2 separate regions of the Homo sapiens genome follow, and region 1 is linked to region 2. A link means that fine-mapping ties the variant in region 2 to the expression of a gene that starts in the linked region. Tissue or cell type: whole blood. Region 2 holds a variant in brackets; the other region holds the start of a gene. All regions are shown on one strand. Distances are from middle to middle. Region 1 holds the start of FIGNL1 (fidgetin like 1). Region 2 has its middle 24 kb from the start of FIGNL1.

Region 1 (8,957 bases), 23 kb after region 2:
CCTGAAAACGCATCAGACTGCTGTACAATCTGTTCAATTTCTTCTTCACTGAGGCAACACTGCTCTTTGGACATTAGATTAATTACTATCTGTTTCCTGGCTGAAGCTTCTGGGAGGGGAATATAAAGCCTTTTCACCAATCTTCTCCGGGCAGCCTCATCAATTTCTTGTGGCCGATTTGTTGCTCCCACCACTAGGATACGATCTTCAGAAGATGTTGTTGCTCCATCTAATTGAACTAAAAATTCTGTTTTTATCCTTCTAGAAGATTCATGCTCACCATCTCCCCGTTGAGATAACAAGGAATCAATTTCGTCAATAAATATCACAGCTGGTTGCTGACACCTTGCAACAGCAAACAATGCACGGACCATTTTCTCCCCCTCACCTACCCATTTAGAAGTTAAGGATGAAGCAGAGATGCTAAAGAATGTTGCCCCAGACTGACTAGCAATGCACTTGCCAATTAGAGTTTTACCAGTCCCAGGAGGACCAAAGAGCAAAATTCCTTTAGGGGGTCCCCTTAAACCAGTAAAGATGTCTGGCCTCAACATGGGCCACACAACTATTTCCTTTATGGTGGCTTTAGCAAATTCTACTCCTGCAATATCTTCCCAATTTACTGGAGGTCCATGATCCATAATCTCATTCATAATAAGTTCAATCATCTTTGGCTCCAAGTTCTTCAGACGCTCATCAACTGGATGTGCTGGTTCTGTAGGTCCTGCCCCATAAGGCTTACATTGCATTCCTCCATTCTGCTCTCCCCCATCTTGCTTGGGTATAGGAGGAACAAACTTTCCAAGTATCCCTCGGGATCTACTAGCTCCTAGAGACTTTTTTACACCACCATATGAAGACCCTGATGCACGCTGAGGTTGGTGGTACTTTTTTTGCTGATCTACCCATAATTGTTCTTTTGCAGTTTTAAATGTAGGCAGGCTGCTATCCTCCTTTGGGCCATTATCTTCTGTTTTACTACAAGCCTTATTCAGTATTGGATTGGAAAGTGCATCAATGGTGCCAGAACCATAAAAAGACTTCCTCTGTGGATTTTCACAGGCAGCAGGAAAACAAGACTGGTTAGATAAGAACACATTAAGTCCTATGTTTTCTTTTGCAGAGCTGTGATTTTCCTTTTTGACATTTCCAAACAATGGTGTGACATGGAATTTTGCAGTAGCTGACTCACCTACAGGTGCTGAGAATGTAGGACAAGTCCTAGCAGTGTTAGTCACCATAGGTGGCTGGGCATTCTGAAGGAGTTTCAAACGATTGCTCTCCGGGAAGTCTTGGGTCCGGTCTCGATCATGAGCTGAGTTAGGTAATGAGTCACTCTCTTGAGAACTACCACAAACACTAAATTTAGGAAGATCAAAGACAGTGGCCTCCTTATGGATTACCACTGATGCAAGAGCAGGTTCCAACAGAGAGTCTTTGAATTTTTTGCCAGCTTGCATCATCTTCTGTACACTACTCATTTTGAAAACATTATTTATTGACAATCCAGACTGCCACTTGTCACTATCTGTTTGTTGAGATCCTGCCAAAGTTAAAATGTTTTCTGCATAATTATTCAACCCAGATTCAACATTGTCAGAATCAATAATTGCAGAATATTTCTCTGCATATTTTTTGAACAGTTTGGTAGCACAGACCTGGGAAATCTCAGAGTTTGCCCATGCATACTGAATGCGTAATATCTGTGCACGGTATGCATCTGCCTTCGGTCCGGTACATATGCCAGATGTAATTGCGAAGTAATTCTTCTGCCATTCACTCAGGTGCACAGATCTAGAGCTGGAGGTCTGCATTTTAGAGGTTCTATAACAAACAATAAAAATGAAAATCAGTATGAAGGAAAACAAAGAAAATACTTTAAATGTAATTTTGAAACTTCTGCTAATCTGAAGGAAGGGACACTGGACTTTTTATTTATAATGTAGATTTATAAGGACAGGTTATAAGAGAAATATCTAGTTAACTATAGATTTCAAGTATTCAAGACATATCAATATGAAGTCTTCAAAATTAAGGACTTGATTAAATAATAATTTATATGAGTTAAATTGTTCTAGTTACATAATTTTATCTGTAGGGAAAGCATTCATAAGGTTTAAAATTAATTTTAAATTTTAAAAACAATGGAACTATAGATACATAAAGCAAAACAAAATAAACAAGAGGTTTAAGTCTGATCTATAAAACTAGGTGAATGAGCTTAAGTGAGCTTTTTACTATCACTGATGGTTTATTTTTATTTTATTATTATTTTTTTTTGAGACAGTGTCTCGCTCTGTCACCCAGGCTGCTGGAGGGCAGTGGCGCTCTCAGCTCACTGCAACCTCCACCTCGCGGGTTCAAGTGCTTCTCCTGCCCCAGCTTCCCAAGTAGCTGGGATTACAGGCACCTGCCACCACCCCTGGATAATTTTTATATTTTTAGTAGAGATGGGGTTTCGCCATGTTAGTCAGGCTGGTCTTGAACTCCTGACCTCAGGTAATCCACCCGCCTCAGCCTCCCAAAGTGCTGGGATTACAGGCGTGAGCTACCGCGCCCAGCTGGTTCTTCAGTTTTCTTATCTGCAAAGTGAGAGGAACCATTGGAAGAATCAAATCAAGCAATGACTATGAAAATAATCTGAAAACTATCATTATCCTTATCACACAAATGTACAAACCGAGGCTGAGAGACTTAAAGAACTTACTTGAGATCACACAGCCAGTTATGAATGGTATCAGAAATCGAACACAAGCAGTTTCACTCCAGGTACTGTGCACTTCTGCATGTACACAATGCTCCTTGATGCTGCTATCCTAGGTCACAGATTGAACAGCATGGATCACAAATTTAAACTATGGCATATTTAAATGGTTTTAATAACATTCATGAATAAGTTCATCACCCTAAACAGAATGCCCTAGAATATCTGTTTCCTAATTTCACATAATTATTAAAAAGTGAAACTGTTACAATAAATGAAATAAGAGAACAAGCTAGCCTACTAGGAAAATGCTTTTACTTTAGATTTCTTCTGTCAAGTTATTCGCATAAGCTTCCTCACATTGTTACCTTTAAACAGAACTATAGATGTATCATATTGCTAGATATATAGAATTTACTTACATATCCACAAGAAAAATTTATGAAAAATTTTTGTTTCCTAACAGTATTTCAATTAAATGAAAACCAAGAAACCCTACTTTAGGTTCAAGTATTTGAAATTTTGCCTTCCAAATTACTTGTAAGTACAACAGCCAGGTTTAATGCAGCTTTTATCTCCCATAATGCCTTACAAAGACATTTGTCACATTGTAAGTAGGTGTTCACAAATCTTTGTTTAAAAAACAATTAGAAAACTTAAGATCCAGAGCTTTAAAGACACTGTAATTTATTTAAAGCTGTAAAGCTAAATAAGCTAGAGTCAAAACTAGATCTGACCTCTTCTGTCAAGCAGTTCATCCTTTTTTTCACTATACCATTTTGATGTTAAACTCATTTATACAATACTAGAAATGAGAAACTGAAAGAAAGGTGACTCAGAAAACACTTGACACAAACTTTCACAATTAATATTATCATTCTCTTCCTCTCCATGGCTTCATTCCCCTTTATCATCTGTTATCCTGAAATTTCTACCATACCTCAGAGTTCTAGTCACTGTTCTCAGAATAAACCCCCTTCTCTTTTCCATCTTCACCTTTCCTTCAATATTCATCTTCCAAGTCTTACTTCTTCCTTTCAATTCAATCATTTAAATGGCAAATAAGGATAACCAAAAACTGGCCATCACCGATCAGTGACACAACCATTGTCTTGTTTACCATTTCCAAGTCAATTTAACCTTTATGGCCTTTCCTAGATCTAAAAAGTATGATTAATTAGCACTGTCATATGAACTGCATTTCAATCTTCTTTATTTTGCCAATGTTCTGATTATTTTAATAATGTCATTATCTGTCTTCCTAGACAGTTGGCTTCTGCAGGGAGGAATTGTTTTCCATTCCATTCACATTGTCTTAGTACCTAGAATACAGTGTCCTTTGGAATAATAGCTACTAAAATACTGACGGAGTGCCTACTCAGTACCAAGCACTGTGCAAGCCTTTCATAGGATTCTGTTCTTGATGCAAAACGGGAGTTAAGAGCACAGGGTCTGGAGCCAGGCTGCCTGCTTTCAAATCCTGGCTCTATCATCTGCCAGCAGTGACTGCAGGAAAATCTCTTAATGTCTTTCTGCCGGTTTTCACCTATAAAAGAAGCGCAGCAACATCACTGAGCTGACAAGGTATTTTAATTCTGCAAAGCACTAGACAGAGGACTCAGCACTTAGAAAATACTCTATAAAATACTGCTTCTTCTGATTCCTCACGATGACCCCTGAAAGGTATGAGCCCTTCTTTCTCATCACAGAGATTAAGAGCTTGCCTGGGTCACAGGGGAACTGACTGACCCCCGCTGTGGGCGCCCAGAGCCCCGCTGGGCCCAGTAAATGCCTGCGGTAAGCGGCCCCGCCCCCGGACAGGCTCTGCCAAAGGAAGCCGCCCGCAGACCTGGCCCCGAGCCTGCCGTCCACGCCGGGCCCCAGCTTCCTAATCCTGGATGAGTCTGGTTCTGGGCTAGCGGGTCAGCCACCCTCCCGCTAAGACAGAAGCAAAAGGGCACAGCCACTGCCTGGCTCCCGCCTCCCACGGCCTCCCGCGAAGTCACCGCCCCGCGACCCCCAGCATTCCAGAGGCACACGCCCGCCTCTCCCCTACGCCCCAACCCTGATGCTCCACAGGGGTCAGCAGCGCCCCTGCCCCGCCTCCCGTCACCGCATCCTACCTGCGGCTGGTGTGGGACGCTGGCAGCCTCCGAAAAGCGCGGGGACTGACGTGCGCCTGCGCGCTGCTGTCGCCCTCGGACTCGCGCCGTACGTGCGTGCGTGAGTGCGTGAGTGCGTGCGTGCGTGCGTTCGGCGCGCGGGGCGTGGGCGCGGCACCTGGGCCCGGGCACCGCCACCTAGGCCCTAGCTCCGACCAGTGGTGTTCTATAAACGCTTATTACATCATTGTGCATAGGCTTCATTTTTAAAAGTACTCCCAAATAAATACAAGGAGGCGATGGAAATTGAATGAAGATTCGAAGGATTCCCATAGAGCGTGGCTCACTTCCCCTCACCGGGACAGCGAGCGGCGGCTCACCTGGGAGAGCAAAGCGTGGCTCTCCTGCGCCCACCCGGGAGAGCAAACAATGGCTCACCTGCGCCCACCCGGGAGAGCAAGCGTGGCTCACCTGCGCCCACTCGGGAAAGCCAGCCGCCATCCTGTGCTGCAGGCAGGGAGCGGGCGGCGGGAGAGGAGCGGATCCACTTAGGTCAGCGGTTAAAACGTCGTTACAAGAGGCCACCCCGGCATCGCGGGGCCTGTGGCTGCGCCCCCTCTTGAATTCAGGCCTAGCACATCACCTCCGCCCCTCGCACCCTGCAGTCTGCGCTCCATACAGCACGTGAGCGGGTGCTCAGCAATGTTCCCTGGCTGAAAGAACCGCATAGAGTAGCATGCAAAAATGACATGCATGTTTAAGATAAAATAAGGGAGAGGACACCTGTTCTGACTGAGTCTGGCAACTCAGATCTCCCCGCAGCCAACATCTACATTCCTTTGGACAGCTGTCTGCTGTGTAGGGACACCTCCCTGGAACTTTGAAAAGCACCCCATCATTACCTTCCACTTTGTTCTGGAGCAAGGTTTCAAAAGAAGAGTGCCGTATTTTGATTAATTTAGTGAATTGGATTTTCAGACACAAGTAAGAGCATCCACTCAGTGGCCTCTGCAGTAAATAATGATATCAGATCACATAACAAGAAGACTGGAGGTTGGCGGGAAATCTGGACCTGGTGACTCAAAGAAGTCATGAAGGACCATCTCTCCATTCTGCCACCTTCTCGCCTGTGGATTTTCCTCCCCAGGCTTGTCACTTCATTGTCGAGAGATGCCCTCACAATCCAAGCCAGGCAGCCTCACATGACCAGATCTAAAACACAAAGAGGGAGCCAAACTGAGAAAGGACCTTTTCCCTCTGAACACTTCTCTCTTGGAAAAAGAAAATGTTTCCCAGAAAGCCTCATAGCCTTCCTCTTATATCTCCTTGACTAACTGGGACCCGGATCCCTGGATATCCTTTCCTGAGAAAGAGAGGGTCTGGGGCAGGGGATAGAGAAAATGACTAGCAACTAGCAGCACATGATGTTTAAACATAAGATTTAAAGAAATGCAAGGCACAAACAATTTGAAGACTTTTTTTAAGTTTTTAAAATCTTCACAAAATAAAAAGGAATTGGACAATGCACTTTAAAAACTAGAAGACGTTTCACTGAAAACAGCATCTCCTAATTCATTTCATGGCTTAGATAGTAATAGAAAATTATTTTATTCTAATTCCATACTTTATCAACTAATTTTAATTATTTTATAATTACCCAAAATATGTCATGTAGAATGAAAATAAAAGAAAATGAAAACAGTTATATCAAGGCCAAGTCAGTTGTATGTTTACTGGCTATTTAGAAATTTCTAAATACGTGTATATTTAGAAATGACTATATAGATACTATTTGGGTAATGTTAGGGATGGAAAGTTTATGTCCCCCCAAAATTTGTATGTTGAAATCCTAAGCCCAATGTGATGGTTTTAAGGGGCGGGGCCTTTGTGAGGTGATTAGGTCATGAGAGTGGAGACTTCATGGATGAGAATAGTAAGTATCCTTATAAAAGAGACTCCAGAGGCTGGGTGCAGTGTCTCATGCCTGTAATCCCAGCACTTTGGGAGGCCGAGGCAGGTGGATCGCCTGGGGTCAGGAGTTCGAGACCAGCCTGGCCAACATGGCAAAACCCTGTCTCTACTAAAAATACAAAAATTAGCCAGGTGTTGTGGTGGGCACCTGTAATCCCAGCTACTTAGGAGGCTGAGGCCTGAGAATTGCTTGAACCCAGGAGGTGGAGGTTGCAGTGAACTGAGATCGCGCCACTGCACTCCAGCCTGGGGGACGGAGTGAGACTGTCTCCAAAAAATAAAATACAATAAAAGAGACTCCAAAGAACTTTCTAGCCCTCTTGCCACCACCTAAGGATGCAAAGAGTTGACAGCAACCTGGAAGAGCCCTCACCAGAACTCGACCATTCTGGCACTCTGACTTCCAGCCTCCACTGTGAGAAATAAATTTCTATTGTTTATGAGCCACTCAGCATATGGTACTTTGTAGCCCTAGACAGGCTAAGACAGGTAATTAGCAATTTTAGGTGATTTTCATCATCAAAATTTTCATGATGGCATTTTGGAGAATTCACATAAACCACTCTGTTACCCTCCTAAAAGTATTGCTCAAATACTGAATTATATTTATGCTTGCCAAAGTTAATTTTTTTCCAACAAGTAACACTAGCCACTTCATTTTGTGCTTTTGATACAAAAGCATTTCCCAATCCAGCGGCTTTCATCTTCTGGCCTGGTTGGCAAAAGTGTAACTCACTTCTGCACCCTCTCTGAACCCTAGTCTCCTCCTCAAATGTAAAACAGTAATAAACCTTTCTTACCCAGGAAGCCATTATAAGGATTATAATCAACATAAGATATAATTCTTTAATTATCAAAGCAGTTGCTGGCATGTGGCAGGCATTCAACAGAAACCGTGTTGCTATGTTATTTTTATTGTTACCATTAATATTCCTATTGGGATTGAAACCCTTATGTCATATCAAAACTTTTCCATCTTTGACAAATGAGACATATTAGGATAGTATCTTAATAATATGTAAGAGTTTAGTGCTTGAGCTATTCAATTATTAAACTTTGCTTCCAAGACCACAGACTGGTGGTATATACTGTGTGCGTGTGTGTGTGTGTGTGTGTTTGTGTGTGTGTATGAGAAAGAATATGCTGTTCTTTTCTTCTTCTGGGTAGAAGTTGTTGAGCCTTCAAGGGAAGAGGTTTTCACCTACAGCAGACAGTGCCAGTTCTCTTGGTGTGAGGGATTCTGGGAGATGGCTGCCCATTTCCATATTCATGAATTTTATAAACATGGTCTCAGATAAATGCAAGTGTACACTTCGGTGAGCTCATTTGTTTTTGAGCAGAGGGGATAATACGGCCCTAAATAATGTGCTTCCCTGTCAGCCAGGAGAGTTACATTCTGGAGATGTGTGTGTCGGTGGGTGCGGGAGGCAGGTGGTGTTGAGGAGATAGGGAAGCCAACAGGACAAAGCTCAGAGGGAAAACAGCCCAATCTAAATCCAGTTCTTTCTCTGTGTGGATTCCCACTGACTTCCAAACCTCTCAGCTCCCTGACTCAGTGGTAAGGAAGAAAAAAGTACCAGGATTGAGGGGATGGTGTTCTAGCCCTCCAGCAGAGGAGTAAGATGTGTGAGCCCAGGGTGAAGCAAGTGCACAATTTTAGTAAAAGATTTTCATTGGCCATACTGAATGAATCATAAAGGGATGTGAAGAGGCTACCTCTGGCATCATTGTCATAAACACAGCTGGTGAGGGGGGAGGTGGTGTTCTCCTGGTGTCAAAAGACAAAATTATTTACAGATCAAATTGGCTTTTATTCATGATTCATGAATCCAGTAGCCTCCATTCTATAAAATAGAATTAGAGTTCCCACTGGGGAATGGCAGAACAGTGGTTTTGTAAGGTGGGAACAAGGAAACAGTATTATTTTAAAGGTTGATTGGTTAGTGTCAGCTTAATTCAGACTACTTTTCTCGTCATGGTTAAAGCAAATGGGACTTCCTTATTACTCTGACTCAGGCAGACTGAACTCTTTCTGATGGGTTGCTGTGACTCTTGTTTTCAAGAAAAACTGGTCTATTTGGGGACCACCAGCTTTCTTAAAGTTTCAGCTTGGTTAAATGGCACTTAGCATGAGTGACTCCACTTTAGTTTGGTCTGTTGGGACCTAGTGCAGGAGCTCA
Region 2 (8,957 bases):
GTTGCAGAATAGAATAGGCACTCGGCATTCACAAGCAATTTGGGCCAGGGGAGATTTACAGATCCCCAGCTTCACAAATACCACCACAAATACACCCTGCTGAGATCCTGAGTAATGAGGAGCAGAGATTAGAGAAGCTGATGGCATCTTTTATACTAGGCTCCCCTTTTAGGCTGAAAGACTGGCCAGCACACACAACATGCCCATAAAATCCAGGCCTCAGCACAGCTAACAGCACTTCCTGTCCTGAAATTTGGGTCCTCACAAATGGCCAAAATCTCAAATGTTTATCCAAAAATGCAAGATTTCCTGTATACATTCACTTTAAAGCCAGGAACTGAGTCATATTGTGTGTATTTCATGTTAATTCTCAAGTCAAAACGCGATAGTAGTTCTTATTTCATGATACAAAGAACTTTGCTTCTGCTTCACTCTGTGAATATTATAGACAAAAATAAATAATGAACACCTAATGCAAGAAGTCTCAAAACCAAAGAGCTGAGGAAATATATTTGGCAAAGATTTTAGCTCTAAATTCAGGCTTGGGTTTTGAGCTTGAATCCATTGGCTGAATCACTGATATAATTATTAGGCAACCAAACCTCTCATCTGTAAGATGGGGATAAAAATTGTTAAGAAAAATGATCCAAAACAGAAAAGAGAATGATTGGGTGTGTCCTTTTAATGTCATACTGGGACACAGGCTAACAGACCCACCCAAGGACCCTTTAATTCTCTAGGACAATCTATTTGTGTTTAACCTGCATTGCCGTTGACTTGGCCCTAGATTCTGTGAAGTTGCTTATATGCATGTACATTTGTCCTGTAAAGATACAAATGATTTCTGCCCAGTAGTGAAGATAACCCCAAAAGTGACACTTTATTGACCTGAAGACATTCACAGGCTTTGTTGCTAACTTAGCAAACCTGCTCCGGCATTCCCCTCCCAGCTACATGTACACACTCAGCCTCTCAAGTGCTCTTTTCCTCAACTTGACATCCTGCTGATCCCCTCATGAACTCATTAAATAATTTCTGATGATTCCTCACTATTTTTATGTGTTGTGGATTGCACAATGTCCCTGAAAATTCACATCCACCAGGATCCTCAGAACGTGACCTTATTTGGAAGTAGGGTCTTCGCAGAGGTTATTAAGGATATCACGAGGAAATCATTCTGGATTTAGGGTGGGCCCTCGATCCAAAGACTGGTGTCCTTATAGGAAAAGGGAGTGACACAGACAGATACGGAGTCTCAGGGGAAGAAGGTCATGTGAAGACAGAGGCCAAGACTGGAATGGCGCTGTGGCAGGCGGAGGAGCACTGGGAACCACCAACAGGAGTGTGGCCTGTCGACAGCCTGAGGTTGGACTTCTGGCCTCCAGAGCTGTGGGGGAAGAGATTTCTATTGTGCTGGTCATTTGTCACCACAGCCCTAGGACACTAGTCCAGTGTTTGTCAGAGTCAAGTTTCAACTCTGAAAATTAGACTTTGCCATAATAGTACCTGCTTCATAGGAGTGTTGTGCTGATCAAATCTTTTAATGCATATCAAGAGCTTAACACGTGCCTGCAACACAGTAAGCACCCGATAAGTATTAGCTATTATGATTAATGTAATAGATGACTAGTAGGGTTTCCGCTAGTGGAGACTGATGATGTGGGAGAGTGCCAGCGGTTTCTGTATTTTGTGTGGATGCTGAAATTTCTCAAGTCAACTTCTTCTTTTGCTTTGGGAGCAGTGGGGACAGCAGGTGCAGCTAGGGTAGCTGTATCCATCATCTTCAGCCCACCCCCAAAGTAAATAGTGCATAGCTTCAAGGCCAGTCATTCTGCAGCCTTCCCCATGGTTTTGCCTGGCTCCTGGAGTGGAAGATTCTCCTGAAAGGAGAAACTGTTCGGACTGCAGTCACCCCAAGCAGGGAGGGAAGAACTTTTACTGTGGGGTGAAGGATTCTTTGGGGGCTTGAAGCAATTGGGTCTGAGCTCTAGGCAGGAGGACGAGGCTGAAGGTCCTGTGTTGTAAGATGAGCAGCCTTCTGTAACACTGAGGCTGGGCGTCATCTGGCTGAGATGTCCCCAGAGGCCTCTGGGAGACTCCCTTCCAGTCTGTGGTCAGTTAACTTGAGGAACAGTATTATGTCCTATATCATTTTATGGTTTCCATTGAATGCAAAATAACTTATCTCTATGAACCATAGAATTTCCACAAAGTCTGTTAAACTCCATAGCTTGGTGTTGACGGTGCTTTGGCATCTCATGAGAGGGTCCTGAGCCCACACACTTGAGGGAGAATTGGAAGCAGTGCCACCCTCTTGCCTTGCCCATGAAGCTCGAAGGGGAGAGTCTGTCCTTTTTGTGGGCAAATGCTGGCAGTACAGAGTCCCTGTGCTGAACCTGTCATTCAAGCAGTCTTCCCTGTGGCATGTCATATCATGTATCGTATCAGATCATATTATTTTCGCTATACAAAAGGGCTTCTTGTGACGAGAACCACCCAGGGCTCATCGTGCCATGTTTTCCTAGTGGCAGCATTCCGAGTCCATCTTTCCTTCAAATAAGAAAAATGTTCACATAGCGAGTGGCCACGATTCCAGTTGCCAAAGGGTGGGATTGCCCAGAGTCCCCTAAGACTAATAAAGGAGGCATTAGAAATATCAGTGGGGAAAGGAAGATTATTCAAAAATTTTTGCTGAGATAATTGGTGAGTTATCTGATAATATACATCTAAATATCATTCTGACATTTAATGATATTGAGAGAGCTCTGCTGCATTTCATATCTCACTTCATGTGCCTTGTTATTTTTTCTTTTCTCTTAGCCCCTTTCAGATTCTTGCATCCTGCAAGTTGATGCTGTCCAGGAAAATTATTTGTGGTAAAAGAAATGTTCTATATCTGTACTGCCCAGTATGAAAGTCGCTAGCTACGTGTGCTCCTGAATGTGGCCAGTGCAACTGAGGGACAGATTTTTAATTTTATTTAATTTTAATAGATTTATGTTAAATAGCCATACGTGGATAGCGGCTGCTATGTTAGGCAGCACAGCCACAGCTGGATCTGAAAAAATTGTTATCACCCATCTTCTAAGTAGATTATTTCCTTAATGGTATCTAATTATTTTGCTTTGCCACAGTTACTGTTCATTGTGTTTTTGCCAGAGTTTGTGCTGGTGAGATTGAAAACATGCTTAATCTTAAGTGAAACATCTCTATAGGATTTTAAACTTGGAAATTATGGTTAAGCTTGTTTGCCTATCGTGAGAGATGTGAAGCAAAGAGAATCCGTAATTTAGCTGAAAGAACTACAGTCATGCTCACATGAAGTCTGATGCTTAGAATGTCCACGGACACATTATTGAAGTGGCATTTATTATCACTGGACACATTATTGAAGTGACATTTATTATCACTTTAGTAATGTAATTCAAATAACAGTGCCTCCCTTCTTCCTGGGACTCTACTTTATCTGTTGTCATTGTTGCTGTTGCTGCTGCTGCTGTTATTTTGGTAGAGCCACCTGCTCCCCACACCTGCTACCCCCCAAAGCTCTCAGCAGCTTGGGAGCTGAGCACAATCTGGGGCGCAGGCCTCGTCAAGGCCCTGACGAATGGATCATTTTATTGCTATGTTCATGTTGGTTGGCAAGTATAGATTCCCACTGAGGCTCATTTTGCGGGTCGGGATCTGAGGGCCCTGCCCTCTAGATAGTACTAGATAGATCTGCAGCCACATTTCTTGAAAAGTTCCAATATAAGAAAGACTTTCCATGTAGGGTGAAAGCCTACTAATAGATCTACTAAATAGAATTGTTTTTCTATTCAAAAAAGGAATCAGATGATGTTGATAATGTATTATGCTTGTATACAATGTTATCACTGGGGGCAAGTGGCTGAAGGGTACTAAAGAACTCCGTCTTATATTTGCAACTTCTGTGTCTGAAATTTTCAAAATAAAAAATTATTTTAAGATGAAGAAGGCAGGAGATATTTTAATCAGACAAAAAAAGGTGCATGAACTAGCAAGTTTCCAATAAGCAGTAGGATCTCTAAGTTTTTACACAAACAATAGCTATTGGAAGGACACTCAGGAATCTATGGAGGTAAACCATGTCTTTCTTTCACTATGAGATTTTTAGGGGTAAATACATATGGTTAGCAGTGAACTCACAAATAGGGCAGTATGTTTGAATTTTGGGCCACAAACTCAAGTGTGCTAGAAATATCATTTTACTGGCCTTACTATTTACTGCTACATAAAATTTATTCAAAAACTTAGTAGTTTAAAACATGAGATATTTATTATCTAACCATTTCTGTGGGTCAGGAATCTAGGTGCATTTAGCTTTGTTTTCTGGCTCAAGGTGTCTCACAAGGCCTCAGCTTGGGCTGAGGTCTTATCTGAAGACTCAGCTAGCTGAGGGTTCACTTCTAAGCTCATTTTATGATTGTTGGGCCCGAGGCCTCCCTCTGTTCCTTGCCACATGGGCCTCTCCACAGGGCAGCTCCCATTATGGCAGCAGGTGCAAATCAGAGTGAGTGAAAGAGCAAGAGAGGATGAACAAGCCAGAAGCTACAGTCTTTTGGTAAATTAGTCACAGAAGTGAGACCCTATCACTTCTAAATTCTGTTCATTAGCAGAAAGTCCCAAGTTCCAAACACCCTCAAGGCGAGGAGATTACACAGAAACATGAACAGAAGGCAAGGTTTGCAGGGACCACCTTAGAGTCTGCCAGAGTCCACCCTCTGGCCCCCAGTGATTCACATCCATGACACATGTAAAAGATATTCATGCTTCCCAAGGTTCCCCAATGTCTCTGCCCATTCAGGTGTCGGCACAAAGTCCACAATCTTATCATCAAGTCCAGGTCCAGATAAGTATAGTTCCTGGGGCCCACCCT[T/C]CCTTGATCTGTGGACCTGGGAAACAAAAGAGAAGAATGATCTGCCCCCATCTCACCCTGTACACACAGGTGGACAGGCAGAGGATAACAGCTATACACATTCTCATACCCGGGACGTACAAAAGAGTCACCAATCCATTACAGTTCTGAAATCCAGGCAGGAGAATGTTGGGTTTCTTGATTAAGCTTTAAGCCCTTAGAATAAATGACCTGTGGCTCTTGGCTTTGCCTTCTGAGTTTTAACGCTGCCCTCTGGGTCATCCTTCCATTTTCCTAAAAGGCATTTGCAGGTGAGAAGTTTTATCAGCCTTTGTCCTGCCAGTAGAATTTGGGAGTCTGAAGTGGCCTTTTGTTTTACTCTGTCTGTCCCCATTAGTCTAAGCTTGTGATGTTTCTGCTGAAACAGTTTTCTCAAATATTCTATGGGCTTTCTGTGGATTTTAATGGGTTCACTCCATTGGACACAAGTCACATCCACAGACCTTTTTGTAATAATACCTCCTCCACCTTGGCCCCCTGGGCATGAAAGACAGATAGTGCCCTTAAGCTTCCCAGAGGCCCGCTAATTTATTGAGAGGGTCTGTGAAGCACTGAAAGGTATTTTGTGTGAGTGAATATTCTGAGCTTATATTCCTTCTAAGATTTTGGCAAATGGTTGTATAGTTACACCCTCTGCTTTTCTCCCAGAGTGCATTTTCCTGACAATAAATCTCTTCATGTTGGCATCATTGCCATTTGGTGATGCTAAAGAATTTTCAAAGTCCTCAAGTCATGGTTCTGTTTTATGCACAGTTATTCTGTCAATATACCTATGCCCTTACATTTTACTATAAGCAGCAAAAAGAAACCAGGCAGCACCTTCAACACTTTGCTTGAAAATCCCTTTCACTATATAGCTAAGTTAATCATTTACAAGTTCAGCTTTTCACAGAATTTCAGGAGACAGTTTCATTGAGCGTTTTGCCACTATATAATAAGATTCTGCTTCTTCCAGTATCTAATAACGTGCTTCTCCTTTTCTTTAGAGATCCCAATGACAGTGCCAAAGTCTCCATAGCTAATAACAGTCTGTCCAAGATTCTTTAGGCATTGTCTATTACACTCCTCAAAATTCTTCCAGCCCCCGACCATGGCCTGCTTCCAAAGCCACTGCCCCATTTGTAGGGATTTGTGACAGCCCCCAACCACTTCTAGATACCAAAATCTGTATTAGTTATCTAGTGTTACATAACAAATTACCACCGACTTAGCAGCTTAAAATCACACAGCGTCTATGTGTTTGGAGTCTAGACATAGCCTGGCTGGATTCTGTTTCAGAGTCTTACTAGGGTGCATTCAAGGTGCCATTCAGGCTGCATTCTCTTCTGGAAGATCAACTGGGAAAGGCTCCATTTCCAAGCTTACTCGGGTGGCTGGCAGAATTCATTTGTTTGTGATTATATGACTGAAAATTTCCGGGTTTTGCTCCCTGCTGCCTGGATGTGGCCCTCAGCTCCTAGAGGCTGTCCCACCTTGTGGCTCTCACAGCAGGCAATTCACAACACAGCAGCTTGCTTCTTCAAGGCCAGCGGGAGAGTGAGAGTGAATGTTCTAGCAAGATCAAGTCTTAGACAACACAATCATGGGACTGACAGCCGATGACTTTTGCTGCATGCTGTAGTCTAGACGAAAGTCACAAGTATCCACCCCATTCAAGAGAGGGACTGTCAAAAGGCGTGAGCCCCAGGAAGCAGGGATTGTAGAGGCCACATCAAAATCTGTTCACCGCTAATCTCATCAGAAATGTCCTGAAGTATTGGGAAGCTGCTCACAATGAAAAGCTTCCTAAAATTCCAATTCTTCTTTGGAAACTTAAATTTTATATTTTGAAGAACTATTCAGTTGTTCTGCTTGAAGTGACAGGCTCATGCCATTCACTTACAAGAAAATCTTTGCCAAAAACACAAGTGTGAATAAACATAGTGTACCTGTCATTCTTTTCAGTAAAAATGGTGTTCCATCAAAGAAGTGGCTAGATTAGCTTGTAATTCAAATAATTGTTCAAGTGCTTTGCCTCGAGAAAACAGGTACTGTGATATGCTATAGATTTGCTTTATGTCTACTTCCCATTTTGTCTCACAAAATACCAGATGTTTACTCATGGATTGAGATTATTAAAAAAAAACTAACAACTTCCACTGCTTCATCAAGGACATTCTTAAGTAAAACTGGAATTTTTAAAAAACTGGGAATGTGTTGCAATGAGAAATACACTGGCTACCAGCATAGTGTGGAGTCACGGTGGTGATTCAGGCACCAGTAGTGTTACCCACCACTGCTTTTTCACCATCACTGTGCATATGAACACAGGGGAAAGCAAGTAATATCTGGGTTTTAACGTTGCATATCCCCTGAAAGGGGCTTAAGGAACACAGAGATCTGTGAACCACACTTTGAGAGCTGATTCAAAAGAACAAGTAGATAAAAAACAAACAGGAAAAAGCATAACTATGCAATTCATGATTCTTTAAAATCAGTACGCTACTAGAAAAAAATCAATTAGTGCCTCATCATATTAAACACAAAAGATATCTAGACAAAAAGGTGGGAACTTAAATACAAGAGATATACAGGATATCTCACCCCTGGCTAGGAGAAGTCTTTCTAAATGGAAAGAAAGAAATCACAAAACACAGATTTGAAGGTTTGACTGATAAAAAATCTACTTCCAAGATGGTTATCGCTTCTATTTCAACCTAACTTTACTCTGAGTTGTTCCAAACCCCAAATCCCATTTCTTAAATTTAGCCTGATGTATTTGTGAACAATATTATGACTTGAAATGATTTCAAGAATCATACCCATAGACTGCTTTTTGTACTATTTTGAAATATTGCTGAGAGTTTTCTAGTTACACCCTTTCCTCTGTTGCATGAAGCCAGAGCTTCTCACACTGTCACATGCGCTGGAATTACCAGGGGGATCTTGTTAACATGCAGATCCTTGAGGCAGTGGGCCTGGGCTGGGTCTCCAGTGATGAGGGTGCTGCTGATCCCTAGAAAACACCCAGGAACTAAGGTGCTAACAAAAATAAACTTCTGGAGGTCTTGTTAAGGCTATCAACTTCTTATTTCTCTTAAGCCCATATGGTTCTCTGCTGTTCTTATAAGAATTTTCTCAACACCTAAAGATCTTGTCCTCTACAACAGTGGAACATCCAGGGACCAGTTGAGAAAGCATGGTACACCCACTCAATGGAAAACTACGCACCCCTGAAGAGTTATTAGGAATGTTGAGTTCTGCATATAGTACATAGAGATGTTTTAATGATGATTGTAACTACAGTGTAATTCTAGCTTTATTAAAATATATTATGCTATGTGTTTGTGTGTGTAAACAGAAAGGATGATTAGGAGATAAATACACCAGAACATTCTGAGTTGTAGAATTGTGTCTGTTTTCTTCTCCATTTTGCATTGTGAACTTTTCAGATTTTCTTCAATGAGTATATATTACAATAATTAAACTTTTATTATATGCATTAAATCTGTTTTAAATTAAGATTGCTCTAATCTTTAGAAGAATCTGTGGTGGAAGCATACTGCAGAGATCCATAAGGAAACTTTTCACTGTAGTCTCAAGGTGAGATTTCATAAACATAAATTTTCTGAGTTGTAGTTGTTTATTTTAAAAAGACAATAAAGTATTATTTATTTAATATTATGTTATTTACTTGTTATTTATTTGCTTTATTATTTATTCAATGAAATATTTTATTGACTTTATAGTAAAAAGTAGAGAACATTATCTTTATGAAAAATAAAACATAGGCTGTAATCCCAGCAGTTTGGGAGGCCGAGGCAGGCGGATCACCTGAGGTCAGGAGTTCGAGATAAGTCTGGCCAACTTGGCAAAACCCTGTCTCTACTAAAAATACAAAAATTAGCTGGGCATGGGTGGCGGGCATCTGTAGTCCCAGCTACTTGGGAGGCTGAGGCAGGAGAATCGCTTGAACCTGGGAGGCAAAGGTTGCAGTGAGCCAAGATCGCGCCACTGCACTCCAGCCTGAGCGACAGAACAA

The links. PIP is the estimated chance that this variant, and not a neighbour inherited with it, causes the effect. A credible set is the group of variants that fine-mapping cannot tell apart.
Region 1: FIGNL1 starts here. The variant in region 2 is the best candidate, but not a certain one, in a credible set for the expression of FIGNL1 in whole blood (INTERVAL, PIP 0.65).

Annotation. Positions count from the first base shown.
Region 1 is chr7:50,445,474-50,454,430 of GRCh38, forward strand. FIGNL1 (fidgetin like 1) reads right to left here and starts at 4,877. Exons shown (of 4, transcript NM_001287492.4): 1 at 4,828-4,877; 2 at 3,645-4,250; 3 at 2,708-2,816; 4 at 1-1,824. The coding sequence starts at 1,814. RefSeq lists an enhancer at 878-2,077 and silencers at 4,398-4,692, 4,834-5,023.
Region 2 is chr7:50,421,986-50,430,942 of GRCh38, forward strand. No RefSeq gene overlaps it. Among named protein-coding and RNA genes, the nearest start is that of FIGNL1, 24 kb to the right of the region's middle. The variant T/C (reference allele first, on the strand shown) is at 4,898.